2 separate regions of the Homo sapiens genome follow, and region 1 is linked to region 2. The links come from fine-mapping of genetic effects on gene expression. A gene starts in region 2. The other region holds a variant in brackets. All regions are shown on one strand. Distances are between the middles of the regions.

The links. PIP is the estimated chance that this variant, and not a neighbour inherited with it, causes the effect.
Region 1: its variant is fine-mapped to the expression of VSTM1 in whole blood (TOPMed, PIP above 0.99).

What each region holds. Positions count from the first base shown.
Region 1 is chr19:54,031,512-54,047,408 of GRCh38, forward strand. VSTM1 (V-set and transmembrane domain containing 1) reads right to left here. Exons shown (of 9, transcript NM_198481.4): 5 at 10,766-10,858; 6 at 10,658-10,685; 7 at 10,405-10,442; 8 at 10,268-10,305; 9 at 9,314-9,569. The coding sequence ends at 9,450. Among named protein-coding and RNA genes, the nearest start is that of VSTM1, 24 kb to the right of the region's middle. RefSeq lists an enhancer at 4,374-4,949. The variant C/T (reference allele first, on the strand shown) is at 10,079.
Region 2 is chr19:54,057,026-54,072,922 of GRCh38, forward strand. It overlaps VSTM1 (V-set and transmembrane domain containing 1), which reads right to left and starts at 6,872. Exons shown (of 9, transcript NM_198481.4): 1 at 6,719-6,872; 2 at 1,672-1,707; 3 at 1,281-1,565. The coding sequence starts at 6,752. It overlaps TARM1 (T cell-interacting, activating receptor on myeloid cells 1), which reads right to left. Exons shown (of 5, transcript NM_001135686.3): 5 at 12,870-13,135. The coding sequence ends at 12,978.

The sequences.
Region 1 (15,897 bases), 26 kb before region 2:
AGAAAAGGGCAACAGTTCTTAGCAGGAGAGACAGTGAGGAAAGCTGCAGGTTACTTGGAGACAGTCATCCCAAATGCATTAGAGGAGGTGTAAAAATCTGCCACAGAAGGAACAATGATCCATAGTCAGAAAAGTTACTGCAGCTTAAGCAGGAAACCCTTCTTGTTCAGGACTGTCATAGCCACAGTTTGCAAAAAGTGCAGCTATTGATTAATGTGATGTAGTGTCAATTAGAGGTACATCCCTGAGGTCTTTAAAACAAAACAAACTCAGCCAGGCACGGTGGCTCACACCTGTAATCCCAGTGCTTTGGGAAGCTGAGGCAGGCAGATCACCTGAGGCTGGGAGATTGAGACCAGCCTGGCTAACATGGTGAAACCCCGTCTCTACGAAAAATACAAAAATTAGCCCGGCATGGTGGTGGGCGCCTGTAATCCCAGCTACTCAGGAGGCTAAGGCAGGAGAATTGCTTGAACCCAGGAGGTGGAGGTTTCAGTGAGCCAAGATCGTGCCACTGCACTCCAGCCTGGGTGACAAGAGTGAAACTCCGTCTCAAAAAATAAATTAAATAAATAAATAATTAGCTGGACGTGGTGGCAGGCACCTGTAATCCCAGCTACTTGGGAGGCTGAGGCAGGAGAATCACTTGAGCCTGGGAGGTGGAGGTTGCAGTGACCAGAGATCGTGCCACTGAACGCCAGCCTGGGCAACAGAGCAAGATTCTGTCTCAAAAACAAAAACAAAAACAAAAAAAGGCTCAAGTTTATGAATGAACTGTTCATATCAGGTGATGGTCTTTCAAAATAATGACTGTTTTGTACCAACTATTGTGCTCATGTGATTGATTGAACAATGCTTCCAAAGAATTTGAAACAATAAGGCAAAGAAACCTAATGTTCATAACAGAAAAAAAAATTAAATGTATAGCACTAGAAAAATTGATTTTTTTTTTTTTGAGACAGGGTCTCACTCTGTCACCCAGGCTGGAGTGCAGTGGTGCAATGATGGCTCACTGCAGCCTCCACCTCCTGGGCTCCAGCGATCCTCCTGCCTCAGCCTCTAGAGTAGCCCGGACTACAAGCATGCACCACCATGCTCAGCTAATTTTTGTATTTTTAGTATAGACAGGGTTTTACCATTTTCCCCAGGCTGGTCTCGAACTCCTATGCTCAAGCAATCAACTTGCCTCAGCCTCCCAAAGTGCTGGGATTACAGGCATGAACCACAGAGCCTGGCATGATACTAGAAAAATTCTTTTTTTTTTTTTGACATTTAAGTTCAGGGGTACATGGGCAGGATGTGCAGGTTTGTTACACGGGTAAACGTGTGTCATGGGGGTTTGTTGTACAGATTATTTTTTTTCTAGTGTATTTACTACTTCCTGATTATCAGATTATTTTATCACCCAGTTATTAAGCCTAGTACCCACTAGTTATTTTTCCTGATCCTCTCTCTGCTACCACCCTCCACCCTCTGACAGGCCCCAGCATGTGTGAAAAATTCTTATAGTCTTCTAGAAAATACAATAGGTAGCCTTTGGAACATAGGGTATCATAAAGAGAAGCTGTAGAAAATATATTTCTTTGAATTTTTTTTTTTTTTTTTTTTTACAAATGATCACTATAATGTTTAAAATATGTTTACCACCTACAGTTGTGTGCTAGGGAAGCCATAACAAAATGCCCCCCACTGGGGGGCTTATGGGACAGAAATGGATTTTCTCACCGTTCTGCAGGCTGGAAATCCAAGATGGAGGTGCCAGTAGGGTCAGTTTCTCCCGGGGTCTCTCTGCTTTGTATGCAGATGGCCGCCTTCTTGCTGTGTCTCCACGTGGTCTTTCCTCTGGATGTACATATCCTGGTGTCCTTTTCTTTTTTTTTTTTTTGAGTTGGAGTCTTACTCTGTTGCCCAGCTGGAGTGCAATGACACGATCTCAGCTCACTGCAGCCTCTGCCTCCTGGATTCAAGCGATTCCCCTGCCTCAGCCTATCGAGTAGCTGGGATTACAGGCGTGCACCACCGCGCCCAGCTAATTTTTGTATTTTTAGTAGACATGGGGTTTGGCCATGTTGGCCAGGCTGGTCTTGAACTCCTGACCTCAGGCGATCCGCCCACCTGGGCTTCCCAAAGTGCTGAAATTACAGGCGTGAGCCACCACACGTAGCCCCTAGTGTCTTTTTTATGTCCAAATTTCCTTTTTTCACAACGGCCTCTTGTCTCTAAATACAGTCACATTCTGAGTTACTGGGAGTTAGGATTCAGCACACGAATTTTGAGGAGATGTAATTCAGCCCATAATTAAGCCCTATCCTCATCAGACTGATGATCTGTGCTTTCTCTGAACTAACAGGATTTATATATTCCTTTTTAACAGCAAGGAACTCAGGTTCTCCATGGCCCCTTTATGAAGTTGCTCCTGCTGGTACATGACCCTCAGTTAGTTTCCTGAAGTTATTTACAAAGCCACCTCCACATGTGTTGAGCCTCTTCAGTTTACTTCAAATCCTGGGCCTGTGCTGCATGGCGGTGCTTTCCACAGATTCATATGTTAGATCTTTTCTATTTTTTTTTCTGAGACAGAGTTTCCCTCTGTCGCCCAGGCTGGAGTGCAATGGTGTGATCTCGGCTCACTGCAACCTCTGCCTCCTGGGTTCAAGCAATTCTCCTGCCTCAGCCTCCTGAGTAGCAGGGACTACAGGCGTGTGCCACTATTCCCAGCTAATTTTTGTATTTTTAGTAGAGGCAGGGTTTCACCATATTGGCCAGGATGGTCTCGATCTCTTGACCCCATGATCCTCCCACTTTGACCTCCCAAAGTGTTGGGATTACAGGTGTGAGCTACCGCGCCTGGCCACATATTAAATCTTTTTTTTTTTTTTTTTTTTTGAGACAGAGTCTTGCTCTGTCACCCAGGCTGGAGTGCAATGATGGATCTCGGCTCACTGCAAGCTCCGCCTCCCAGGTTCATGCCATTTTCCTGCCTCAGCCTCCCGAGTAGCTGAGACTACAGGCACCCGCCACCACACCTGGCTAATTTTTTGTATTTATAGTAGAGATATGTTAGCCAGGATGGTCTCGATCTCCTGACCTCATGATCCACCCACCTCGGCCTCCCAAAGTGCTGGGATTACAGGCGTGAGCCACCGCGCCCGGCCTCATGTTAAATCTTGACACCCAATGTGATCTGAGAGGTTGGGCCTTTGGTGATGGCAGCAGCCACTCCAGACGGCTTGCTGCTGCCATGACGCCACCTGCCCCAGGGAGGCCCAGCCCGGGCTATACACGCTATGGAGCCGCAGGGAGCCCTGCCCCTTCCGAGTTGGGGCGGGAGCTCCCAGGGTGATGCTACAGCTGTCCAAACCCCAGCTGTGGATCCGAGCCTCCCTCAGATCGTATCACATATCAAGACTTACTCTTGTTGACAAAAAGAGTCAAACTCTATAAAATATTTGAAGAGATTTATTCTGAGCCAAATATGATAATGACCATGGCCCCTGACACAGCCCTAAGGAGGTCCTGAGACCATGTACCCAAGGTGGTCGGGGGGCAGCTTGGTTTTATACATTTTAGGGAGGCGTGAGGCATCAATCAAACACATTTGAGAAATACATTGGTTTGGTCCAGAAAGGCTGGACAATTTGAAGGAGGCAGGGCCTTCCAGGCTTTAGGTAAATTAAAACATTTTCTGGTTGACAATTGGTTGAGTTTGTCTAAAGACCTGGGATTAATAGAGAGGAAATATTCAGGTTAAGATAAAAGATTGTGGAGACCAAGGTTCTTTTGAAGTCTTATAGTGGCTGCCCTTAGAGACAATAGATGACAAATGTTTCCTACTCAGACCTTCAAAAGTTGCTAGATTCTCAGTTAACCTCCTCAGGATTGGGAGGTCCTGGAGGAAAAAGATCTAGCAATGTTAACAGAGATCCTTTACATATGCAAATATTCCCCCCCACCAAGGACAGCTTTGCAGGGCCATTTAAAAATATGGCAAAGAAACATGTTTTGGGGTAAAATATTTTTATTTTCTTCTTTGTTAGGTAATGTTATGCCAGAGTCAGATTGGAAAGTAAGTCACGATATATAGGGCTAAATAAAACCCATCTGATGAGAATTTATGGTTTGTAGGGCATGAGACCCCAGACCCCTTAGATAAGAATCTGGGCAAGATAAAAAAAAAAAATCAGAGCTGAGTCCTCACTATGGTAATTCAGTGAGTGTGACTACCAGCATAGATGTCCATAAAGGATATCCATTAGGGCCACCCATTTTAATAATGTTTGCCAGGACCCTTCAATCAAAACAAAATCCATTCTCAGAATAGCTTAGAATCAAAGGAGGACTTTTTGGGTTTTTTTGGTTCAAGAAGGATTGGGCAAGAAAACTGCAGGGAGTGAAGGAATGCTGAGCTTTGGAAGCAATTAGAACCAAGAAAACAAAAGCTGAAAGCACTGTTACTCACTCCCGCTTCCCGGATGCTCCCTGAGTCATCTTTGTGTTTCTCCATAAAGACTGGCTTCCTCCACATGGCGAGACAGATGGCCACCAAGAACTCCCAAGCTTAAAAAAGAATGACTCTCTGTGGCAAGAAAACAAAGAGACACTCCTCCCCACCTTGCTACTCCCTATGTGGCCTCCACACTGCAACCTGGGACTGTGTAGTGAGGGGAGGGGGAGCGAAGAAGTTTGCGTTAGTCTGTTTTCACACTGCTGATAAAGACATACCTGAGACTGAGTAATTTATTTTTATTTTTATTTTTATTTATTTATTTTTTTGAGACGCACTCTGTCACCCAGGCTGGAGTGCAGTGGCACGATCTCCGCTCACTGCAAGCTCCGCCTCCCGGGGTCACACCATTCTCCTGCCTCAGCCTCCTGAGTAGCTGGGACTACAGGCGCCCGCCACCGCGCCCGGCTAATTTTTTGTATTTTTAGTAGAGACGGGGTTTCACTGTGTTATCCAGGATGGTCTCGATCTCCTGACCTCATGATCCACCCGCCTCGGCCTCCCAGAGTGCTGGGATTACAGGCGTGAGCCACTGCGCCCAGTCAGTTTACTTTTTAAAAAAGAGGTATAACGGACTTACAGTTCCACATGGCTGGGGAGGCCTCACAATCATGGCAGAAGGTGAAAGGCACATCTTACATGGTGGCAGACGACAGAGAAATGAGAGAGCCAAGCAAAAGGGGAAACCCGTTATAAAAACCTCAGCTCTCCTGAGACTTGTTCACTACCATGAGAACGGCATGGGGGAATGTGTGGGTGGAGGATTAGCCAGGTGCTGAGGCAAGAGACTGAAGGCACAAACTGTTGCAGTATAATAAAGAAAATAGAATAAGAATAGTCATAATACAAATTAGATGTAGAGATGATCATGGACAATTATCAATCATTATTATAAACATTATTAATCATTAGCTTTTAATATTACTCTTTGCTGCATTACTAATATAACCTAGGAATAACCGGCGGGTATAGGGTCAGGTGCTGAAGGGACATGGTGAGAAGTGACCTAGAAGGCAAGAGGTGAGCCCTCTGTCACGCGTGCATCAGGGCCGCTTGAGGGGTCCTTGGTCAAGCGGTAACGCCAGTGTCTGGGAAGGCACCCGTTACTTAGCAGACGGTGAAAGGGAGTCTCCTTTCCTTGGAGGAGTCAGGGAACACTCTGCTCCACCAGCTTCTTGTGGAAGGCTGGATATTATCCAGGCCTGCCCGCAGTCATCCGGAGGCCTAAACCCCTCCCTGTGGTGCTGTGCTTCAGTGCTCACACTCCTTGTCCACTTTCATGCTCCTCCCGTACTCCTGGCTCCTCTTTGAAGTTCATAGTAGATAGCGGTAGAAGAAATAGTGAAAGTCTTAAAGTCTTTGATCTTTCTTATAAGTGCATGGAAGAAAACGCTGACGTATGCTGCCTTCTCCCTCTCTCTCTGCTTCGGCTACCTAAGAGGGAAGGGCCCCCTCTCCTGTGATCACACGACTTGCTTCACCTTGTCAATCACTTCGAAGATTCACCCTGCTTACCCTGCCCCCTTATCTTGTATGCAATAAGTATCAGCGCGCCCAGCCGTTATGGGCCACTACCGGTCTCCGCGTCTTGATGGTTGTGGTCCTCCGGGCCCAGCTGTTTTCTCTTTATCTCTTTGTCTTGTGTCTTTATTTCTTACAATCTCTTATCTCTGCACACGGGGAGAACACCTGCAAAGCCCCATAGGACCCTGCAGGAATCCACCCCCATGATTGAATTATCTCCCACTGGGTCCATCCCACAACACATGGGAATTATGGGAGCTACAACTGAAGATGAGATTTGGGTGGGGACACAGACACAAGCCATATATCAAGGTTGTTCCTTCAGATGCAGCAATCCTGGGAGCTTCTGGTTAGGACAAGATACAAGCAGAGACAGCTTCATGGGTATTGTAAACTCAATGTTTGTGTCCCGACAAAATTCAGCTGTTGGAACCTAACCCCAAGGTGATGGTATTTGTAATACGGGAGCTAAAAAGAAATTATTGAGGCAGACAGTGAGGGTAAGAGAGTCCTCAGTAAGGTTTCCTATTAATAAAGAGCAGCCCCCAAATAATTTCTTTTCTAACAGAAAGCAGCCTGAAACATCAAGCTGCAAGCATAGATAAACAAGCTAAAATCTTGCATCAGCTGTGCCAATAGAAAACGGATGCCTGGGAGCCGGGTATATTCAACATGGAGGTTCCCTCTTCCCTTTTCTTTGTCCCCACATGTGCAGTAAAAAAGCAGACAACATGGCCCCGGCCAGGCAGAGACCCTACCTACGTAATAAAAGATTAGGGTGGGATGGCCAGCTTCTTTGGGGGCTATGCAAACGTCATACCTGGTCCGACTAATCTCTCAGGCCCTATGTAAATCAGACAGCACCTCCTCAAGCTTGTCTATAAAAGCCCCATGCATTTCACCACAAAACCAGGGGTCCCACTCGGGAACCCCTCTCTTCTCTGTGCAAAAGAGAGAACTATTCTCTTTTCTCTTTCTTTTGCTTATTAAGCCTTCACTCTTTTTTTTTTTTTTTTTTTTGAGATGGAGTCTGGCTCTGTCATTCAGGCTGGAGTGCAGTGGCACGATTTCGGCTCACTTCAACCTCCGCCTCCCAGGTGCAAGCAATTCTCCTGCCTCAGCCTCCCAAGTAGCTGGGATGACAGGCACCCACCACTGCGCCCAGCTAATTTTTATATTTTTAGTAGAGATGGGGTTTCACCGTGTTGGTCAGGCTGGTTTCGAACTCCTGATCTCAGGTGATCCGCCCCCCACTCGGTCTCCCAAAGTCCTGAGATTACAGGCGTGAGCCACTGCGCCCGGCCCAGTCTCTTTCACTATGTAAGGACACAGCAAGAAGGTGCCAGCTATGAACCAGGAAAAAAGCCCTCAGCAGACACTGAATCTACCAGTGCTTTGGTCTTGGACTTCCAGCCTCCAGAACCATGAGAAATAACTATGTGTTGTCTGTAAGCTGCCAGGTCTTTGGTATGTTGATAGCAGCCTGGATGGACTAAGACACTCTCTCCTTCCCTCTCATGCCCTGGACCCTCATCAGGGCCAGAAGTGGTTGGGGTGATGGCCCAAGCAGACTTTAAAAAGCACTGGCCTAGCACAAGGGTTGGCACGCTAGAGCCCACAGCTTGTTTTTGCAAATAAAATTTTTTGTTTTTAAAACAACTTTCTGGGCTGGGCACGGTGGCTCACGCCTGTAATCCCAGCACTATGGGAAGCCGAGGCAGGCGGATGACTTGAGGTCAGGAGCTCAAGACCAGCCTGGCCAACATGGTGAAACCCCATCTCTACTAAAAATACAAAAAAATTAGCCTGGTGTGATGGCAGAAGCTTGTAATCCCAGCTACTCAGGAGGCTGAGACAGGAGAATCATTTGAACCTGCGGGGAGAGGTTGCAGCGAGCTGAGATCACGCCACTGCACTCTGGCGCCTGGGCGACAGAGCAAGACTCCATCAAAAAAAAAAAAACTTTCTATAGATACATAATATTTATGCATATTTATGACATACATGTGATAGTTTGATACATGCACAGAATGTATAATACTCAAATTAGGGTATTTAGGATATTCACCACCTCAAACATTTATCTTTTTTTTTATCTTTTCGAGACAGAGTCTCTCTCTGTCGCCCAGGCTGGAGTACAGTGGTGTGATCTTGGCTCACTGCAACCTCTGCCTCCCGAGTTCAAGCAATTCTTCTGCCTCAGCCTCCCAAGTGGCTGGGATTACAGGTGTGCGCCACCACACCCAGCTAATTTTTGTATTTTTAGTGGAGATGGGGTTTCACCTTGTTGGCCAGGCTGGTCTTGAACTCCTGACCTCAGGTGATCCACCCATCTTGGCCTCTCAAAGTGTTGGGATTACAGGAGTGAGCCACTGCACCTGGCTCATTTATCGTTTGTGTTGGGAATGTTTCAAATCTTCTCTTCTAGCTATTTTGAAATATACAATATATTGCTGTTAACTATAGTCACCCTTCTGTGCTATTGAACACTTGAACTTATTCCTTCTATCCAACTGTGTTTGTGCCCATTAACTATCCCACCCCTTCTAGCCTTTGATAACTGACTCTCTCTTTACCTTCATGAGATCTACTTTTTTAGCTCCTACATGAGTGAGAACATGAAGTTGTAAATAAAGTTTTATTCTAACACCGCCACACCTACTTGTTTACATATCAGCGATGGCTGCTTTCATGGTACAACAGCAGAGTGGGGTAGTCTCAGCAGAGATCCTACAGCCCACAAAGCTGGACGTGTTACTCTCTGGTCCTTTTGTTTTCTGCCCTCTGGTCTAGGAGTTTGCAGCTCTGGGCGTTTTTTGTTTTTTTTTTTTTTTTTTTTTGAGATGGAGTCTCACTCCATTGCCCAGGCTGGAATTCAATGGCGCCATCTCAGCTCACTGCAATCTCTGCCTCCTGGGTTCAAGCGATTCTTCTGCCTCAGTCTCCCAAGTAGCGGGGATTACAGGCGCCTGCCACCACGTCCAACTAATTTTTTATTTTTAGTAGAGATGGGATTTCACCATGTTGGTCAGGCTGGTCTTGAACTCTGACCTCAGATGATCCACCCACCTCGGCCTCCCAAAGTGCTGGGATGACAGGCGTGAGCCCGGCCGTTTTCTTTTTTGCTTGTTGTGCTTCCTGGAGATGCTCAGTAATTCTTACATTCTTTCCTGGATAGCTGGTCAATCATTATTTATTATTTCCTTGAATTGTTCTAGGAGGAAATGTGGGGTAGAAAGAGTATGGTGGGGTTCTTGGGCATGAATAATCCATAAATAAGTCAGATTTCTTTTTAAGACGAGAAACTTAATTTTATTGATATGGACGAAGAGCAAGGAAACACAGTATCTGCATCTCCAGATTTCCGATAACCTTGGCCAGCACGATCCCCCCTCCTTTAGTGGCCAGGGCTGTCTTCTTGCTACACTTTCAGTGCCGCATATTCATGAGATCCTGGGGGCTCCTGGGTGGTGTCTGAAGCTGCCTCAGACAGGGCGCTGGTGCTTAGCTCAGCATAGGTCACTCCTTGGGGGTCTGCCGTCTTTGGAGAAAATAGATGAATATTAGAACTGAGTGTTCAATATGGCAGCCACTAGCCACACATGGCTATTGACATTTAAGTTAATTACAATTAAATTTAATTTAAAACCCAGGTCCTCGGTCACACCAGATGCATTTCTTTTTCTTTTCTGTTTTTATAACCCTTTATGCCTGTGACATCAATGGATCTGCGTAAGCCTTTTTTCATTTTTTTTAAATTTTTATTTATTTATTTATTTTGGGACAGAGTCTGGCTCTGTCGCCCAGGCTGGAGTGCGGTGGCGTGATCTCGGCTCACTGCAACCTCCGCCTCCCGGGTTCAAGCCATTCTCCTGGCTCAGCCTCCTGAGTAGCTGGGATTACAGGCGCCCACTACCACGCCCAGCTAATTTTTTGTATCTTTAGTAGAGATGGGGTTTCACCATGTTAACCAGGATGGTCTCGATCTCCTGACCTCATGATCCGCCCGCCTCGGCCTCCCAAAGTGCTGGGATTACAGGCGTGAGCCAC[C/T]GCGCCCGGCCCATGCATAAGCCTTTTAAATGGAGATTTTGGTTCCCATTAGGGGAGTTTCGTGACTTGTCTAAGACCACATGCGTGATAAACAGTATACATTTCTGTATGGGCTTAACCAGGAGGCACACACGACCAGCCCATTGTGGTGAGGGAGCTCTTGTGGGACTCCTAAGCGGGAGGACTCACCGAGAGAGATACCCTTTCCATATTGGATAAATCTGCCTCTGAGTGAGAAAGGAAAAAAAAAAATCAGTTCTCAGCTGCAGAAGTCAGAACTTAGTCTTTCTATCCGGTGATTCCCTTAAACTTCCCCTGTCCCTTACCGGCAGCCTCCTGCTCCGGAAGTTTGGAATGGCTGGTTCTGAAAGAGAGAGACACACGTGAAAGGATGGGATGTGAAGATTTCGGGGAGAGGGTGAGGGCAATGGAGGGGAGAGGAAGGGAGAAGAAGGGAGAGGAGGAAGGTCACAGAATGGGCTGGGGTGGGGGCTCAGGGTGCCAATCCCGGATGTGCCAATGGGTTCCCTTGAGAATGACATGGGAATAAGTGGAGCATGAGCTATGCCAAGCATCTACCTCTTGGTGGATTCCTCAGATGATGAACCTACAAAAAATGCAGGAGGAATTTACCTACCGAGAAAATCCTTCACTCCCCCTCTCTCCCTTTGCGTTCTCTGAGCTCACTGTGCTGGCTGCATCTGTAGATGATGAAGACTGAGAGGAAGAGGAGAAGGATGGAGATGCAGCTGAAGATGGCGACAAAGATGGTTCTGGTGTCTGGAGGGGGAAGAGCAGGTCAGGGAATCAGCCTGGCTCCTGAAATCCACTGATAGGGGCGAGCCGAAAAGCTAAGAGAAGCCAGACAGATGGCCTGGCTTCCAAGCCTGGATCTCCCACCTCGGAGCTGGAACTTCCTATTGCTTTGGGGAATTTCCTTAATCTTCTCCAAGCTTCTGTTTCCCCATCTGTAAAGTGAGGATAGCAGCAGTAGCTACTTTATTGGATGGTGGGTCAGTACCTATAGAAAGGGCTGGAACAGTGCTTGGCGCATAGGAAATTCCAAAAATTCCCAGGGAATGTTTGGTGCATAGCAATGATATTGATCATTTATTGTGAGCCAGCTCTGTTCCAGGTGCTCCATATATATATATACGTGTGTGTGTGTGTATATATATATATAAATGTATATATATGTGTGTGTATATATAAATGTGTATATATATATATATATATATATATATATATACATATATATATATATATACACACTTTTTTTTTTTTGAGATGGAGTCGTGTTCTGTCACCCAGGCTGGAGTGTGATCCTGGCTCACTGCAACCTCCACCTCCCTGGTTCAAACAATTCTCCTGACTCAGCCTCCTGAGTAGTTGGGATTACAGGCGTGAGCCACCACATCTGTCTGTGTAATCACTGTCTGAAATCCACTGATGGGGTGAGTAGAAAAGCTAAGAGAAGCCAGACAGATGGCCTGGCTTCCAAGCCTGGATCTCCCACCTTGGAGCTGGAACTTCCTTGGAGCTGGACATTTCGACCAATAGACTTTGAGTAAAGCAGATGACCCACTGTCATAGGGGTGGGCCTCATCCAATCAGTTGAAGACTTTAAGACTTTAAGAGAAAAGACTGAGGTCCCCCAAGGTGGAAGGAATTCTGCCTCCAGACTCAAGCTGCAATATCAAGTCTCCCCTGGATCCCCTGCCTGCCTGCCCTGCAGATTTCAGACTTGCCAGCTCCCCACAATCACGTGAACCAATCCATTAAAATCAATCTCTCTCTCCATATATGTATATACATGTATATGTTCTCTTTTTTTTTTTTGAGACAAAGTCTCACTCTTATCGTCCAGGCTGGAGTGCAATAGTGCAATCTTGGCTCACTGCAAGCTCCGCCTCCCGGGTTCAAGCAATTCTCCTGCCTTAGCCTCCTGAGTAGCTGGGATTACAGGTGCCCACCATCACGCCCGGCTAATTTTTGTATTTTTAGTAGAGACGGGGTTTCGCCATGTTGGCCACGCTGGTCTTGAACTACTGACCTCAGGCAATCTGCCTGCCTCGGCCTCCCAAAGTGCTGGGATTACAGGCGTGAGCCACCACACCCAGCTTATATCTATATGTTCTATTGGTTCTGTTTTTCTGGAAAACCCTGGCTAACACAGACATGATCTCAGCTCTTAACTTCAAACATATTTCCTTTTTCTTTTTTTAAAGGAGAGAGAGAGATGTGAAAGGACGGGATGTGAAGATTATGGGGAGAGGGTGAGGGCAATGGAGGGGAGAGGAGGGGAGAGGAGGGAGGTCACAGATGGGAGCTCAGGATGCCAATCCCAGATGTGCCAATGGGTTCCCATTGTTGCCCAGGCTAGAGTGCAGTGGTGTGATCATACTCGAATTCCTGGGCTCAAGTGGTCCTCCTCACTCGGCCTCCAGGGTAGCTGGGAGTACAGACCACCACGCCCAGCCAACTTCAAACACACTTCAATGAGCTCGTTGATGCCAGGTAATGAACAGCAGTGACACGGGCATGGAAGGCGTTTAGAGTGGGGAGGGGTGGGGCTCTCTGAAGGAGACATGATTCCCCAAGACACAGAACAAGGGATCAGCTGGGAGAATTCAGGGAGGATTCCTAATAAGAACAGGGTTAGAGCAGGGTAGAAAAGAATGACCAGTGGCCGGGCACGGTGGCTCACGCCTGTAATCCTGGCACTTTGGGAGAGTGAAGTAGGTGGATCACTTGAGGTCTGGAGTTCGAGACCAGCCTGGCCAACATGGTGAAACCCTGTCTCTACTGAAAATATAAAAAATAAGCTGGGCATGGTGGCGCACGCCTGTAGTCCCAGCTACTCAGGAGGCTGAGAGAAGAGAATTGCTTGAACCTGGGAGGCGGAGGTTGCAGTGAGCCGAGATCGCATCACTGCATCATACACTCAACTGACCAAGACTCCAACTCAAAAAAGCATCCCTCTCAGGAGATAAAATTTCTACCAATTAAAAAACAAAAACAAAACAAAACAAAAAAAACTAGTTCTTGAGCAATATTGCCATGCAAGTCTACATCATAGCGTTTTAAAGTCTTAACAACAACCCTGCAAGGTAGTACAATTATTTCCCTCCCACTGGTGAAGGGCATGCATTCCCGTGTGACTCCTGGGATTACAGCAAGGGTTGTGTCCAAAGCTCACAGCGTTGAGGAAGAGAGAGCAACCTGTTACTAAAGCTAGGCGACAGAGTCCATGCAGTTCCCCCCCGTTTTTTGTTTTTCTTGGCACTTTAGATTCAAGAAACACAAGTCGTGAGACTTTAAGGAGTAAGTAGCAGAAACGTGATTAAGGAAAAAAGTTGAGCAACTATAGAAGTGAGGCCCCAGAAAGGGGCTTCACCAAGACCCCCGCTATCTTTGTTAGTGTGCTTTGAGTCTGAGAATTTTTCCTAGGTGTGCAATGATCTGTGGTCACATTACAGAGCCAAGTCTGAGATGCTTCACACGCCTGGTCCTCTGCACCAACAGAGGGTCTCCCATCCAGACGCTTCCCCTACTTGGTTCGCTATGTTTGCATTGGCATTTCTACATATCTATATATAGAGAATTACCTATCTAATTTATCTATCTCGCTAATCTATCTACCATCTGTCTAGGTATCTATTATCTATCTACCTATCTATCTTTATCTGTCTCTGTACCTACTTACCTATCATCTATCCAATCTATCCGTCCTATCTAATTATGATTTATCTATCTACCTACTTGCCTATCACCTATCCAATCTATCTATCCTATCATATGTAATTAACTATCTGTCTGTCTAATTTTTCTATCTTGTTAATCTATCACTTATCTAGGCATCTATGTATCTATCTTTATCTGTCTATCCACCTGCTTACCTGCTGTCTGTCTAATCTATCCATCCTATCATATCTAATTATCACTTATCTATCTACCGACTTACCTATCATCTAGTTACCAAATCTATCATCTATCTAATGTATCTATCAATCATAACCAGTTATCTATCATCTATCATCTATCATCTGTATGTATCTGTCTATTCACCTACTATTATCTATTTAATCTATTCTATCTAGTTATCTATCTATCTATCCACCTACTTATCTAATTTTTCTATCTTGCAACTCTATCACCTATCTAGGTATCTATGTATCTATCTGTGTATCTGTATATCTATCTATCTATCTAGCTAGCTTTATCTAGCTACCTAGTTACCTATCATCTATCTATCTAATCTATCATCTATCTAATGTATCTATCAATCATATCTAATTATCTGTCTATCTAATCATCTATCTTATCTATTATATCTAGTTATCTATCATCTAGCTAGCTAGCTAATCTATCTGTATCTATCTACCTACTTACCTATCGTCTATTTATCTATCTAATCTATCATATCTAGTTATCTATCTACTTACTTATCTAACCTGTTGTATCTAGTTATCTATCTACCTACTTACCTATCATCTGTCTATCTATCTAATCTGTCCATCGTATCTAGCTACTTATCTACCTATCATCTATGTATCTATCTAATCTATCATATCTAGTTATCTATTTATCTGCCTACTTGCCTATTATCTATCACATCTAATTATCTATCTATCCCCCTCCCTGAAATAAGGTTCTTTCTGAGCTGATCATCAGGGAGCAGCAAAAGGAGTGGGGAGTTTGAAACAAGACATATTTGAGTTCTAGTACTGGGTCTCCTACCTCCTGACTTTGTAAATGTTCCCTTCCCTTTCTGGAATACGTTATTTTTTGGTTAAATATAAGGAGGGGGCAGAGAGCTAATAATATCTAACTTGAAGAGTTAGGTAATGATGAAAAATCCTGGCTTTAAAGCGCTCAGTCTAGAAACTGACTCATTGTGTCGGATAATGGGATTGTAGGTATAATGATGATTTTTTTTCACCCAATATTCCACCTACACCCATCTCTCTCTGTAATAGATTCTGTCAATGTTCCTCAACCCATGTTCCCCAGATCCCTTTCCCATTTTTATGCATTCTAGATCGTGGCTTCTTTCCCTTTCCAAAGTGAACATTTGTATCTCTTCTTTGGGGGACTGCCTGGGAGAACTCCAAATGCCTTGGAATTTACATGCCCGGGACAAACTGCCACTGACGGCTGTGGGGACCCCAGCTCCCTAGCCTCTGGTCTTCGACCTTCTCTGTCTCCACTGCTTTCTGCAGGATGGAGCCAAAGATACCATCTGAGGGACACAGATATCCCACACTTGTTTAATCTATTTTCCTCCCAGCCCTTCTTCCCCACTCCCTAAAATGTAATTTTCAAGCCAGGCGTGGTGGCTCACACCTGTAATCCCAGCACTTTGGGAGGTCGAGGCAGGCAGAGCACCTGAGGTCAGGAGTTCGAGACCAGCCTGACCAACATGGAGAAACCCCGTCTCTACTAAAAATAGAATATTAGCTGGGTGTGGTGGTGCATGCCTGTAATCCCAGCTATTTGGGAGGCTGAGGCAGGAGAATCTCTTGAACCTGGTAGGCGGAGGTTGCAGTGAGCCAAGATCACGCCATTGCACTCCAGCCTGGGCAACAAGAGCGAAACTCTGTCTCAAAACTAAATAAATAATAAATAAAATAAAACGTCACTTTCACACTAATGCTGTCTAAGAGCCTGCTTCTGGTGGAGCTGAATCAGAGAACCCCTCAAAAGCAACAATTTTTTTTTTTTTGAGACAGTCTCACTCTGTCTCCCAGGCTGGAGTGCAGTGGTACAATCTCGGCTTTGGAACCTCCCCCTCTGGGGTTCAAGCAATTCTCCTGCCT
Region 2 (15,897 bases):
TTGTATTTTAAGTAGAGGTGAGGTTTCACCATGTTGGCCAGGCTGGTCTCGAACTCCCGACCTCAAGTGATCTGCCCACCTCTGCCTCCCAAAGTGCTGGGATTACAGGCATGAGCCACCGCGCCGTGCCTGGCCTGCATCTATCTTTTTGTCTCCTAGATTCCTTCTTCCCCAGCCATGTCCCACGACAGGAAAAGAAATACGTGCATCAGGCAGGCTTTGGTGACTCACGCCTGTAATCCCAGCACTTTGGGAGGCCAAGGCAGGAGGATCACCTGAGCTCAGGAGTTCAAGACCAGCCTGGGCAACATAGATCCTGTCTCAACAAGTAATTTAAAAATTAGCCAGGCATGGTGGTGCTTGCCTGTACTCCCAGCTACTTGGGAGGCTGATGTGGGAAAATCGCTTGAGCCTGGGAGGTCGAGGCTGCAGTGAATTGTGTTCATGCCACTGCACTCCTGCCTGGGTGACAGAGCGAGATTCTGTCAAAAAAAAAAAAAGCAGCCGAGCGCAGTGGCTCACTCCTGTAATCTCAGCACTTTGGGAGGCTGAGGTGGGCAGATCACTTGAGGTCAGCAGTTCGAGATCAGCCTGGCCAACATGGTAAAACCCTGTCTCTACTAAAATACAAAAATTAGCCAGGTGTGGTGGCGCACCCCTGTAGTTCCAGCTACTCGGGAGGCTGAGGCAGGTGAATTGCATGAACCCAGGAGGCGGGGGTTGCAGTGAGCTGAGATCATGCCACTGTACTCCAGCCTGGGCAACAGAGCAAGACTCCCTCTCAAAAAAAAAAAAAAGGCTGGGTGTGGAGGTTCACGTTTATAATCCCAGCCCTTTGGGAGGCCGAGGCAGATGGATCACTTGAGGTCAGGAGTTTGAGATCAACCTCACCAATATGGTACAACCTCATCTTTATTAAAAATACAAAAATTAGGCCGGGCGCGGTGGCTCATGCCTGTAATCCCAGCACTTTGGGAGGCGGAGGCAGGTGGATCACAAGGTCAGGAGATGGAGACCATCCTGGCTAACATGGCGAAACCCCATCTCTACTAAAAACACAAACAATTAGCTGGGCGTGGTGGCGGGCGCCTGTAGTCCCAGCTACTCGGGAGGCTGAGGAGGGAGAATTGCTTGAACCCAGGAGGCAGAAGTTGCAGTGAGCCGAGATCGTGCCACTGCACTCCAGCCTGGGAGACACAGCAAGACTCTGTCTTAAAAAAAAAAAAGCAAAGCCAAACCAAAGAAATGTGTGCATCAAAGAGTACATCTGCCCTTCTCACCTGTGACCACCAGCTGCAAGTGTTCACTGCTTTCTGACCACTCATGGGAGGCTGTTGTCTTGTAGGCACAAAAGTACCTCCCAGCATCCTTAGGCTTCAGGTCCGTGAAGGGGAATTCAGCTTCGTTTTCTGCCGAGCTCTGTTCCTGCTTGTACCCAGAGTCGTTCACCTTGCGCAGCACAAATGTCACATTCTGGGAATGAGCCTGACACTTCAGGGTCACATTGCTCTCGGCTTCAACCACCGAGCTGGGCCAGGCGTGGAGGGAGGGCTTGGGCGGTTTCTCTGGAAACAATTCAGAGTTAATTTGAGTCTAGAATTCAGACGATTAAAGGAAAAGGTCATGAAGCGTGGGATGCAGGAATAAAAGTTTAAGTAGGAGAAAACTCACCATTCTTTTTCTCATCTTCGTAGCCCAGACACAGCCCTGGAAGAGAAATCTCAATGAGAGAAAAATTATGTGCTTGTCCTTGAGTACAAATCCAGCAGAGAACGTATGACTAGCTCTTTATAGGTCTGAGATATATATATATATATAATGTATATATGTATTATATATAATAAATGTATTAAGTATATGTACACATATTACATATAATACATATATAAATATAATATATATATTAAATATATGTATTACATATATGTATATATTTTTGGCAGATATCTCCCCAGACTTACCTCTTACTTTTGTTCCATTGTTTGTCATTCAGAAGCTACGTGTATGGAGAAAATTCCAGCAACTTCTTCTTTCTTTTTTTTTTTTTTTTTTTGAAATGTAGTCTTGCTCTGTTGCACAGGCTGGAGTGCAATGACATGATCTCAGTTCACTGCAACCTCCGCCTCCCAGGTTCAAGCAATTTTCCTGCCTCAGCCTCCCGAGTAGCTGGGACTACAGGCACCCGCCACCACACCTGGCTAATTTTTGCATTTTTAGTAGAGACAGGGTCTCACCATGTTGGCCAGGCTGGTCTTGAACTCCTGACCTCAGGTGATCCACACGCCTCGGCCTCCCAAAGTGCTGGGATTACAGGCGTGAGCCACTGCCCCCGGCCCAGCAACCTTTTCTGATGTATTGAATTGCTTTCATGAGTAATCCTTTCACCATCTAGAAATTGTTCAACATTCACCTATGCTTTTTTCTGGTATTTTCTGTGATTGCAGTGTTTTGTTTTGTTTTGAGACAGAGTCTCGCTGTGTCACCCAGGCTGGAGTGCAGTGGTGCAGTCTCAGCTCACTGCAACCTCCTCCACCCCCTGGGTTCAAGTGATACTCGTACCTCAGGCTCCAGAGTAGCTGGGACTACAGGTGTGTGCCATCGTGCCCAGCTAATTTTTGTTGTTGTTGTTGTAGAGATGGGGTTTCACCATGTTGCCCAGGCTGGTCTCAAACTCCTGAGCTCAAGTGATCCACCCGCCTCAGCCTCCCAAAGCGCTGGGATTACAGGCATGAGCCACCGTGCCCGGCCTGATTGCAGTTTTACCCTTGCCACTTAAATAATGCAAAGGTTATTTTATCGTGGAGTGAGAGTGGTGGGTTTTTTTTTTTTTTTTATTTTTCGAGATGGAGTCTCGCTCTGTCACCCAGGCTGGAGTGCAGTGGCGCGATCTCGGCTCACCGCAAGCTCTGCCTCCCGGGTTCACGCCATTCTCCTGCCTCGGCCTCCCGAGTAGCTGGGACTACAGGCACCCGCCACCAAGCCCAGCTAATTAATTTTTTTGTATTTTTAGTAGAGACGGGGTTTCACTGTGTTAGCCAGGATGGTCTTGATCTCCTGACCTCGTGATCCACCCGCCTCGGACTCCCAAAGTGCTGGGATTACAGGCATCAGCCACCGCGCCCGGCCGAGAGGAGGGTTTTCTTGCTCAATTCCAATAGAGAGAATCTGCTCCCCCTTCCCCGTGTCTTCTGGTCCCAAATACTCTCCTCACTTTAGCTTTGGTTTCCACTTACATTATCCCCTCCCTCTTCTGTGTTCTGTTCTCTACATTCCCCGCTGGGAAGGTAGCGTCTTAAACTTGGGTGGAAAATGGGATGTCAGTCATGGGGCTTGTTTCAGGGTGAAGTTACGTAGAATTTAGGTAGAAATTCTCTAGAGCCACGACAGTGTCTCAGGACATTGGTTCCTTGTTGACACAGGTGCCGATACAGAACGTGACCCCCCACCAAGCTTCACCACAGAGGAATGAGGTGGAGGCCTCACGATGGACCGAAGCTGCGTTGGCAGCGAGATTAGCTGGGATTGGCAGGTAGGAAACAGCCTCTGGGTGGGCAGGGCATCCCAGGACTCAGGCTCTGTTTTGAGACCCTCCCCAAATCCCGCTTTTAGATTCATGTCATCTCATCTCTGCTATCCACCCATCGTCTGTTCAAACAGTGATTCCTATATTCTTTTTTCTTTTTGAGACAGGGTCTCACTCTGTGGCCCAGGCTGGAGTGCCAGGGTGCAGTCACAGCTCACTGCAGCCTCAACCTCCTGGGCTCAAGTGATCCATCCATCTCAGCCTCCCAAATAACTGGGACTACAGGCATGCACCACCACGCTGGCTGATTTTAAAATTTTTTTGTAGAGATGAGGACTCACGATGTTGCCCAGGCTGGTCTCGAACACCTGAGTTCAAGTGATTCTCCCACCTTGGCCTCCCAACATGCTGGGATTACAGGTGTGAGCTACCTGCACCCAGCCCAATTCCCATATTCTTTTTCTTTTCTTTTTTTTTTTTTTTTTTTGACATGGAGTCTCCCTCTGTCACCCAGGCTGGAGGGCAGCGGTGCTATCTTAGCTCACTGCAACCTCTGCCTCCCAGGTTCAAGCGATTTTCCTGCCTCAGCCTCCCGAGTAGCTGGGATTACAGGTCCTTGCCACCATGCCCAGCTAATTTTTGTATTTTTAGTAGAGACGGGGTTTCACCATGTTGGCCAGTCTGGTCTCAAACTCCTGACCTCAAGAGATCTGCCCGCCTGGGCCTCCCAAAGTCCTGAGATTACAGGCGTGAGCCACCACACCTGGCTGATTTGTGTTTCTTGAAAAGAGAAGTTCAAGTTGTAACTCCCAGGACCTGCGAATGTGACCTTATTTGAAAATAGCATTGTCTGATCTTTGCAGATGTAATTAATTAAACTAAGATGAGGTCATACTAGAGTAGGCTGGGTATCTAATCCAATATAACTTACAAGAAGAGAAAAAGAGAGACAGAGACACACAGAAGGAAGACGGCCATGCGAAGACAGAGGCAGAGAGGCCAGGCTGCAATCATAGTGCTTTGGGATGCCAAGATAGGAGAATTGCTTGAGCCCAGGAGTTGGAGACTAGCCTGGGCAATATAGCAAGATCCCATCTCTAAAACAGAAATTATTTTAATTAGTCCAACATGGTGGTGTGCACCTGTAGTCCTAGCTGCTCAGAAGGCTGCGGGGAGGACTGCTTGAGCTCAGGAGGTTGAGGCTGCAGTGAGCTATGGTGGTACCACTGCACTCCGGCCTGGGCAACTGAGTGAGACCCTGTCTAAAGAAAAGAAAAAAAAAAACAGAGCCAACGATTGGAGTGATGCATCTACAAGTTAAAGAATGCCGGGAGCGCTGGCTCACGCCTGTAATCTCAACAGTTTGGGAGGCTGAGGCGGGCAGATCACCTGAGGTCAGGAGTTCGAGGCCAGCCTGGCCAACGTGGTGAAACCCTGTCTCTACTAAAAATACAAAAATTAGCCAGGCATGGTGGTCCATGCTTGTAATCCCAGCTACTTGGGAGGCTAAGGCAGGAGAATTGATTGAACCCAGGAGGTGGAGGTTGCAGTGAGAAAGATCATGCCACTGCACTCTAGCCTGGGTGACAGAGCAAGACTCCGCCTCAAGAAAAAAAAAAAATGCCAAGAATTGTCAGCCATCACTAGAAGAGGGGCATAAAACAGACGCTCCTTCATAGTTCTCAGAAGGAATCAACATTGCAAACACCTTGGTTTCAGACTTCTCATCTCCCCAACTTAAAGCAATTCTAATTCCTTTAAGCCACCAGGCTTGTAGTACTTTGGTATGGCAGCCATTGGGGGATGAGGTCAGTCTCCTGGTTGCCCAGCTTACTGTGCTCAGCAGCTGGAGGCTTGGGTATGAACCCGATAGTCATCTCTAAGGCACAAATAGCCGGGTGCAGTGGCTCACACCTGTAATCCCAGCACTTTAGGAGGTTGAAGTGGGTAGATCACCTGAGTTCAGGAGTTTGAGACCAGCCTGGCCAACATGGTGAAACCCCATCTCTACTAAAAACACAAAAAATTAGCCAGGCGTGGTGGCGTGTGCCTATAATCCCAGCTTCTCGGGAGGCGGAGGCAGGAGAATCGCTTGAACCCAGGAGGTGGAGGTTGCAGTGAGCTGAGATCACACCACTGCACTCCAGCCTGGGAGACAAAGCAAGACTCTGTCAAAAAAAAAAAAAAATGCTCATCTAAGGTGCAAATGTGTGTAGGAGACGAGCATTACCCCACAAGGAAGGGCTGCACCCAGAAAAGGAGGAAGGAACTGAAGCAGACGAAGCACGTCGATGTCCACCGCACCCCCCGTGCACCAGGGAGGAACTGGGGCCTTAGGGAGGTGGAGCTCTGCTGGGTCAAGCCTAGAGTTTCTATGTAGTAAAGCCGAGATTATAACCCAGGTCATCCGTTTCACAGTGTGAGCTCTGTCTGAATACATCAGGTTCAATTGGAGGATGGTTAAAATCAGCCTAAGAATCGAGCTGGTCAGAAAATTGTCTTCTTGGGGCCAGGTGTGGTGGCTCACGCCTGTAATCCCAGCACTTTGGGAGGCTGAGGCGGGCGGATCACCTGAGGTCAGGGGCTCGAGACCAGCCTGACCAACATGGTGAAACCCCGTCTCTACTTAAAATACAAAAGTCAGCCGGGTGTGGTGGCCTGCACCTGTAGTCCCACCTACTCGGGAGGCTGAGGCAGGAGAATCGCTTGAACCTGGGAGACGGAGGTTGCAGTGAGCCCAGATCACGCCATTGCACTCCAGCCTGGGCTACAGAGTGAGACTCTGTCTCATAAATAAATGCATACATACATAAATAAATAAATAAGAGAGAGAGAGAAGAAAATTGTCTTTTTGCCCACAGCCTTGCACCCTGTAGATCCCTAAGCCCAGCCCTCCTCTATTCCGACGGAGGATGATGGCAGTACTGCGGTATTTAGCGGCTGCAGACTCGGAGACCCCACAGCAGCTCTGCCTTTCCCAGCGGAGTCTGTCCCCGTGTCTCTGCAGCGCGGCCTCCTCCTCGCTTGCATGTGGGCGGCAGAACTCACAGAACCCACAGCCCAGACCCACCCACCGCAGGTGTGCAACACCTGGAAGTCATTACTTCCACACACCGCATTTCCACCTGGACTGCCACTCCCACATGAGTTTTTCTCACCAGCCCAAGCCCATTCGTCCCAGTCCTGGAGACTCACCGAGGCAAAGCAGGGAGAGGAATTCTGCGGTCATAGCGTCCCTTCTGCCAGAACCAAGGCCCCGCCTTGGGTTTTACCCTTCAAAGGCGGAGCGGGACTGGGCCGGCCGCAGCTCTCCGGCTGCCCGGTTCGTCCCCAGGATGTGCAGATAGAGGAGGTTTTGCTCTGACACTCTGGTTCTCTGCCCCACTCTTGCAGTTTCCTTCTCACAACCGACTCAGGAAACAAGAAGCCGTCGATGATAACTTCTTCCCCATGAATCCGGTGTGTGTGGCCCCACCCGCCCGAGCTCTGTCCTACCTTATCTGAAGTTCTGCCAAGAGTTTTCTGTAAATGTAATTTTTTATTTTAAAACACTAATACCGGCCGGACGCGGTGGCTCACGCCTGTAATCCCAGCACCTTGAGAGGCTGAGGCGGGCGGATCACCTGAGGTCGGGAGTTCAAGACCAGCCTGACCAAAATGGAGAAACCCCCGTCTCTACTAAAAATACAAAATTAGCCAGGCATGGTGGCGCATGCCTGTAATCCCAGCTACTCCGGAGGCTGAGACAGGAGAATGGCTTGAACCCAGGAGGCGGAGGTTGCTGTGAGCCAAGATTGTGCCACTGCACTCCAGCCTGGACAACAACGGTGAAACTGTCTCAAACAAGCAAACAAACAAACATTAATACCTATAGCTTTATAGCTTCCGTGTACCCACTAGCCAGCTCCCCACAATGTTAACCTTTTTTTGGGGGGCGGGGGGGACAGAGTCTTGCTCTGTCACCCAGGCTGGAGTGCAGTGGCGCGATCTCGGCTCACTGCAACCTCTGCCTCATGGGTTTAAGGATTCTCCTGCCTCAGACTCCCAAGTAGCTGGGATTACAAGCATGCACCACCACACCCAGCTAATTTTTTGTAGAGATGGGATTTCACCATGTGGGCCAGGCTGGTCTTGAACTCCTGGTCTCTAGTGACCCGCCCACCTCAGCCTCCCAAAGTGCTGGGATTACAGGCATAAGCCACTGTGCCCGGCCAATGGTAATCTCTTATAATTACAGTACTTTTTTTTTTTTTTTTTTTTTTTGAGACAGAATCTCTGTCAGCCAGGCTGGAGTGCAGTGGCACAATCTTGGCTCACTGCAACCTCTGCCTCCCGGGTTCAAGCGATTCTCCTGCCTCAGCCTCCCGAGTTGCCGGGATGACAGGTGTCCGCCACCACTCTTGGCTAATTTTTTTTGTTCTTTTTAGTAGAAACGAGGTTTTGCCATGTTGCCCAGGCTGGTCTCGAACTTCTGACCTCAGGCGATCCGCCTGCCTCGGCCTCCCAAACTGCTGGGATTACAGGCGTGAGCCACCACGCCCGGCGTATGGCACATTTTCAAAACCAGAGACTTTGCACTGGCATCACACGTTTAACCAGGTTCCAGAGGTCACTCAGATCTCACCAGTTTGTGCATAATTCGTTTCTCTTTTTCTCTTCCTCTTCCTTCTATTTCTATTTCCTTTTCTCCTTTTCCTTCTTTTCTCCTGCTCTTCCTCCTCTTCCACCTTCTTTTCCTCCTCCCTTTTCTTTGCCTATGGGTATAGTTCTGTAACATTTTATTGCCTGTATGTATGGCTTTATAGAACCACCGCCACAATCAAGACACAGAACTGTCCCACCACCACGTAGGAACTCCCTCATGCTGCCCCTTTATAATCGCTCTCCCACCCTAGCACCTGCTAATCTGTTCTACGTCTCTATCACTTTGTCACTTTGAGACTCTTGTATAAATGGAATCGTCCATCGCCTCACCTTCTGAGGGTGACCTTTTTCACTCAGCACAATGCCTGTGAGATTCATTCAAATGGTTGTGTGTTATGATGATGGATACATTAGCCGGGCGTGGTGGCACACGCCCATAGTCCCAGCTACTCAGGAGGCTGAGGCAGGAGAATCGCTTGAACCCGGGAGGCGGAGGTTGCAGTGAGCTGAGATCACGCCACTGCACTCCAGCCTGGGTCACAGAGCAAGACTCCATCAAAAAAAAAGAATTATCTAATGGATACAATGTGTGTCACTGGGTTAGTGGATACCTGAAAGCCCTAACTTCATCATTTTGGAATCTATCCATGCAATAAAGTTACACTTGTACCCCATAAACGTATACAAATAAAAAATAATCGTCTGGGCATGATGACTTACCGCTGTAATCCCAGCACTTTGGGAGGCTGAGGCGGGATTACAGGTGTGAGCCACCATGCCCGGCCTATACTTTCTATCTTAATAACTACAAAAATAATAACTTGCTGGATGGGTCCCTGTGCCCACCCCGTCCTGTCCTAAGTGAGGAGGATGGGAAGAAAGCCATCGTCCTGTCCTGGTGCGGCTCTCAAACAGCTGGAAATGCTGGCTGCACAGGAAACTCTAAGGATCGGCAGCTCTAGCGCATGCTACCCTTGGCAGCTGTGTGGTCTGTGGATAGAGAAGGACCAACCTGTGGTTAGTGGAGGAAGAGGAGGAATATTGCTTTGATAAGCACATCCTCAGAGTTATAACAGAGGAGACAATAGTTATAAAATAAGAATGATATTTACGAAAAATAATAAGACTATTAACAAGAAACAGCAACAAATCTTGAAAACAAAATGTAACAACAAAACATAAATGTTGACTTTTTTTTTTTTTTTTTTTTTGAGACGGAGTCTCGCTCTGTCGCCCAGGCTGCAGTGCAGTGGTGAGATCTCGGCTCACTGCAACCTCTGCCTCCCGGGTTCCAGCAATTCTCCTGCCTCAGCCTCCTGAGTAGCTGGGATTACAGGCATGCACCACCACGCCCAGCTAATTTTTGTATTTTTAGTAGAGATGGGGTTTCACCATATTGGCCAGGATGGTCTCGATCTCTTGACCTTGTGATCCGCCCACCTCGGCCTCCCAGAGTGCTGGGATTATAGGCATGAGCCACAGCACCTGGCAACTGTTGACATTTTACATCTGCACCAGTAAGACTGGCTACCAATTACAAGCAAATGGATGCCATGGATAGAATGGAATTCCTGCCAAACTGGGTAAAATGTTGGAAACATATAAAATAAAATGTAAAAGAAATGTATTATAAATACAGGCTGGGCGTGGTGGCTCATGCCTGTAATCCCAGCACTTTGGGAAGCCAAGGTGGGCAGATCACTTGAGGTCAGGAGTTCGAGACCAGCCTCGCCAACATGGTGAAACCCCGTCTCTACTAACACACAAAAATTAGCCAGGCATGGTGGTGGGCGCCTGTAATCCCAGCTACTTGAGAGGCTGAGGCAGGAGAGTCACTTGAACCTGAGAGGGAGGTTGCAGTGAGCTGAAATTACGCCACTGCACTCCAGCCTGGGTGACAGAGTGAGACTCCCTCTCCAAAAAAAAAGAAAGAAAGAATGTATTATAAATACATATGACCAAGCACAGTGGCTAACGCCTGTAGTCCTGGCACTTTGGGAGGCCAAGATGAGAGGATCACTTGAGTCCAAGAGTTCGAGACCAAGTTGGGCCATATGGTGGAACCCGGCTTCTACAAAAAATACAAAATTTAGTCCGGCATGATGGCACACACCTGTGGTCCCAGCTACTCAGAAGGCTGAGATGGGAGGATTACTTTAGCCTGGGAGGTCGAGGCTGCAGTGAGCCGTGATCTAGCCACTACACTCCAGCCTGGGCGACAGAGTGAGACCCTGTCTCAAAATAAATAAATATAATAAATAAATAAATATGTATATCCCAATATTGGACTAAATGCTGGTCCAGAAGCACAAAATAGAAAGAACGGAGAGGAAGTATTAATAAATATTACACAGGAAGCAATGTTTTTCCCTTCGTGTGGAGGAAGAGTTCCCCGCAGGTGAGAGTCACCTACTACTCAATCTGACTCTGAAGTTTTAAGTATTGATTCAAGTTATCAAAAATGTATTAAGGGCTGGGCACGGTGACTCAAGCCTGCAATCCCAGCACTTTGGGAGGCCGAGGTGGGCTGATCACTTGAGCTCAGGTGTTCAAGACCAGCCTGGCCAACATGGGTGAAACCCCATCTCTACTAAAAGTACAAAAATTAGCTGGGCATGGTGGCAGGCGCCTGTAATCCCAGCGACTTGGGAGGCTAAGGCAGGAGAATCGCTTAAACCCAGGAGGTGGAGGTTGCAGTGAGCCGAGATCTTGCCATTGCACTGCAGCCTGGGTGACAGAGCGAGACTCCGTCTCAAAGAAAAAAAAAAAAAGTATTACGTGGCTCATTGTGCCCAATTCTGTCCTCTGTCCCCAGTGAAAAGTACAGGAAGAAGAAAGCCACCATCCTGCCCTACAGCAGATCCCAACAGAGCTGAGAGTGCAGGTTCCACAGAAAGCGGTTAAGGCTCAGCTGGTCCAACCCATCATTCCCTGGGCAGCTGTGGGATCTATGGCTAGAGAAGAACAGAGCTGAGCTTAGAGGGGAAGGAAGAGGAGGAAGATTGTTTTCTCCCGGCATCCAAACACAGCTTTTCAACCAGGGGGAGCACCACCCTCACTTCCCATCGCCCCATCCAGGGATATTTGAAAGGTATGAGAGTAGTGGCTTTTTTGTTGTTGTTGTTTCACAATAATTAGGTCTCCAACAGGTGTTCAATGGGAAAGGAAGTATTAGCAATGTCGAGTTACGTGTTCCTATAATGGACAAGACAGTCTCACATGGTGAAGGACTATTGCACTTTAAACACCATTTGTGGCCATGCCCGGTGGTGCACACCTGTAATCCCAGCACTTTGGGAGGCTGAGGCAGGTGGATCACTTGAGGCCAGGAGTTCGAGACCAGCCTGACCAATGTGGCGAAACCCCGTCTCTCCTAAAAATACAAAAAAATTAGCCAGATGGTGGCAGGTGCCTGTAGTTGCAGCCACTTGGGAGGCTGAGGCAGGAGAATCACTTGAACCTGGCAGGCGGAGGTTGCAATGAGCCGAGATCGCACCACTGCACTCTGGCCTGGGCGACAAAGCGAGACTCTGTCTCAAAACAAACAAACAAACAAAAAAACAAAAAATACCATTTGTGCCCATGTGGAGAAACGTGTGAAGTCCCCATGGTAGAGTCTGATGTTTAAAGAACCCCATATGGATTGAATGCACAGCAGGGCGGCTACAGTTCACAAGGCTGCACTGGGTAATTACAATTTGCTAAGAAGGTGGATCTTAAACAGAAAGGTCCATAAGCTAGATTGAGATAACCATTGTCACAATGAGTGAAATTTCTTCCTCGGCACACAATTAATTACTTAGTTAGTAGGAAAGTTCCCAGAAGGTGGATCTTAAACAGAAAAGTCCATTAGCTACATTGTGATAATCATGTCACAATTAGTGAAATTTCTTCTTTGGTACACAATTAATTATTTAGTAGGGAGGTTCCCAGAAGGTGGATCTTAAACAGAAAGGTTCGTTAGCTACATTGTGATACTCATGTCACAATCAGTGAAATTTCTTCCTTGGTACACAATAAATTACTTAGTAGGAGGGTTCCCCACCCGTAGGCTTATGGGGGTATAATTGATAAATCAAAATGGAATATATCAAAACATCACGTTGTACACAAATATAACTCCATTTTTATTTGTCGATTAGATCTCAATAAATCTGGAGCAGAAGAGAATTCCATATCTCTACAGCAGCCCATGAAAGAGAGAGGGGATCCGTGTTTTAACTTGGATCTGTTACTGGAAAGGGGTCCCAGTCCAGACCCCAAGAGAGGGTTCTCGGATCTCACACAAGTAAGAACTCAGGGTGAGTACACAGAGTAAAGTGAAGGCAAGTTTATTAAGAAAGTCAAGGAATATGGCTGCTCCATAGGCAGAGCAGTCCAGAGGGCTGTCAGTCGGCTATTTTTGTGGTTATTTCTTGATCGTATGCTAAACAAGGGGTGGACTGTTCATGAGTTTTCCAGGAAAGGGGAGGGGATTTCCCTGGAACTGAGAGTCCCTCCCTCGTTTAGCTTCTGGAAGTTGCCATGGCATCTGTAAGCTGTCTTGGTGGCGGTGGGAGTGTCTTTTAGCATGCAAATGCATTATAATTAGCAAATAATGTGCAGTGAGGACGACCAGAAGTCACTTTTGTTGCCATCTTGGATTTGGCAGGTTTTGGCTGGCTTCTTTGTTGCATCTTTGTGTCTTTGGGTCTTTGTGACCTGTATGTTGTGACCTGTCTCATCCTGTGACTTAGAAAGCCTCAACCCCCTGGGAATGCAGTCCAGCAGGTTGCAGCCTCAGTTTACCCAGCCCCGGTTCAAGATGGAGTCACTCTGGTTTGAAGGCCTCTGATTCACCTGGAGACACATTCCGGCTGTACCAGGCCTCCACCAGGAAAGCTCCCATGATAACCACAATTACGGCAGCCAGACCCAGTCGTACGAAGTTACCCAGGGAGTAGTTGCTCGATGTGGTACCTGGGGGAACTGAAAGAGAGAAGGGGCTCAGCACTGACCCTCAGAGGGTATCCCTCCTTCTCAAATGGCCCCACCAAATCTGACTATCATCACCCACTTAATGTTTTCGGTTTTTTGGTTTTTTTTTTTGAGACGGAGTTTTACTCTTGTTGACCAGGCTGGAGTGCAGTGGTGTAATCTCAGCTCACCACAACCTCTGCCTCCCAGGTTCAAGCCTCCCTGCCTCAGCCTCCCAAGTAGCTGGGATTACAGGCATGTGCCACCATGCCCGGCTAATTTTATATTTTTAGTAGAGACGGGGTTTCGCCATGTTGGCCAGGCTGGTCTTGAACTCCCGACCTCAGGTGACCCGCCCACCTCAGCCTCCCAAAGTGCTGGGATTACAGGTGTGAGCCACCGCGCCCGGCCACCCACTTAATGTTTTCTAGCCAGTAGTCCACTGTACTTTAAAGTTTTAATTGAACTTTTTTTTTTTCTTGAGATCAAGTTTTGCTCTTGTTGCCCAGACTGGAGTGTAATGGCACAATCTCAGCTCACTACAACCTCTGCCTCCCGGGTTCAAGTGATTCTCCTGTCTCAGCCTCCCAAGCAGCTGAGATTATGAGCATGTGCCACCACACCCGGCTAATTTTGTATTTTTAGTAGAGACGGGGTTTCTCCATGTTGGTCAGGCTGGTCTCGAACTCCTGACCTCAGGTGATCCACCCGCCTTGGCCTCCCAAAGTGTTGGGATTATAGGCATAAACCACCATGCCTGGCCATAATTGAGCTCTTTAAAGTTTTAATCCCTGAAAACAAAAGATGGAATCTTTGTTGTTGTTTTTGAGACGACGTCTCACTCTGTTGCTCAGGCTGGAGTGCAGCGACGCAGTCTCGGTTCACTGCAACCTCCACCTCCTGGGTTCAAGCGATTCTCCTGCCTCAGCCTCCCGAATAGCTAGGATTACAGGCACCTACCACCACACCCGGCTAATTTTTGTATTTTTAATAGAGATGGGTTTTCGCCATGTTGGCCAAACTGGTTTCGAACTCCTGGCCTCAAGTGATTCGCCTGCCTCGGCCTCCCAAGGTGCTGGGATTACAGGCCTGAGCCACCGCGCCCGGCCAAGATATGCAATCCTAATGAGTTGTAATGGGAGTTCCTTTATCTTCCTTCCTTGATATTCACTCCACCTTAGCTCTCTTCCTTCGTTTATTTGCTCTTTATCCCATTTCCACCTTCCCACATTGCCTTTTCTCCTCCCGCATCCTTATGTTAAGGAATAGTCTTGGGGCAGCACATGAGACGGAAGGAGCTCTACAGAGCCCCGAATTCCGTGGCTGGATCAGCATCCTCGCAGCACACACTGCTGTGCAGCAGTGCACCTGAGAAAGTTTGAGTTGAGGCCGGGCACAGTAGCTCACGCCTGTAATCCCAGCACTGTGGGAGGCTAAAGTGGGAGGATTGCTTGAGGCCAGGAGTTCGAGAGCAGCCTGGGCAACATGGCGAAACCCCATGTCTACTAAAAATACAAAAAAATTAGCCGGGTGTGGTGGCGGGTGCCTGTAATCCCAGCTACTCAGGAGGCTGAGGCAGGAGAATTACTTGACCTGGGCCTGGGGTTGGGGGGTGGAGGCTGCAGTGAGCTCAGATTGTGCCACTACACTCCAGCTTGGGCGACAGAGTGAGACTCCATCTCAAAGAAAACAAACAAACAAACAAAACCCTAGCCTCCAGATTTTCAGGGAGGCTGATTTGAGTAATAATAAAACTCTGATTGGCCAGGTGCAGTGGCTCATGCCTGTAATCCCAGCACTTTGGGAGGCCCAAGCGGGCAGATCACGAGGTCAGGAGTTCGAGACCAGCCTGGCCAATATGGTAAAACCCCATCTCTACTAAAAATACAAAAATTAGCCAGGCAGGGTGGCACACATATAGTCCCAGCTACTCGGGAGGCTGAGGCAGAAGAATCGTTTGAACCTGGGAGGCAGAGGTTTCATTGAGCCGAGATCGCGCCACTGCACTCCAGCCTGGGCAACAGAGCAAGACTCCGTCTCAAACAAACAAACAAACAAAAAAACTCTGGTCTCCCACTTACCTGGCTCAATGTGTATTAAACTCTTTTTTGCAATTCCTCTGTCTTGATGAATGGGCTTCATCCAGGCACCCGGCAAGAGCTGTAATGTAACTCATTACAGCAGTTACAACAGATGAAAAATAATTTACAGAGCTGAGGAAGCAGAGTGCTAGCACCCAGTAAGGCAGGAAACAAGATACTTTCAGAAGAATTCTAGCAGTCAATAAAAGACATGGGTAGACTTCGCATCCACGGCATAGAAGCAGGAGGCTGTGCAAACACCATGTTCTGAGGATGAGATAATTTTTTTTTTAAATTTGAAACTGGGTCTCACTATGTTGCCCAGGCTGGTCTCAAACTCCTGGGCTCAAGCAATTCTCCAGCCTCAGCCTCCCAAAGTGCTGGGATTACAGGCCTGAGCCACCACACATGACTGAGAAAGAATTATTGAGAGTGAAATCACTAACACCAAGAAAAAACAAAACACGCCATGCACAGTGGTTCACACCTGCAATCCCAGCCCTTTGGGAGGCCGAGGTGAGCGGATCACCTGAGGCCAGGGGTTCAAGACCAGCCTGGTCAACATGGTCAGAACCCCATCTCTACTAAAAATACAAAAATTAGCCAGGCGTGGTGGCGGGCACATGTAATCCCAGCTACTCAAGTGGCTGAGGCAGGAGAATTGCTTAAACTCGGGAGGCAGAGGTTGCAGTG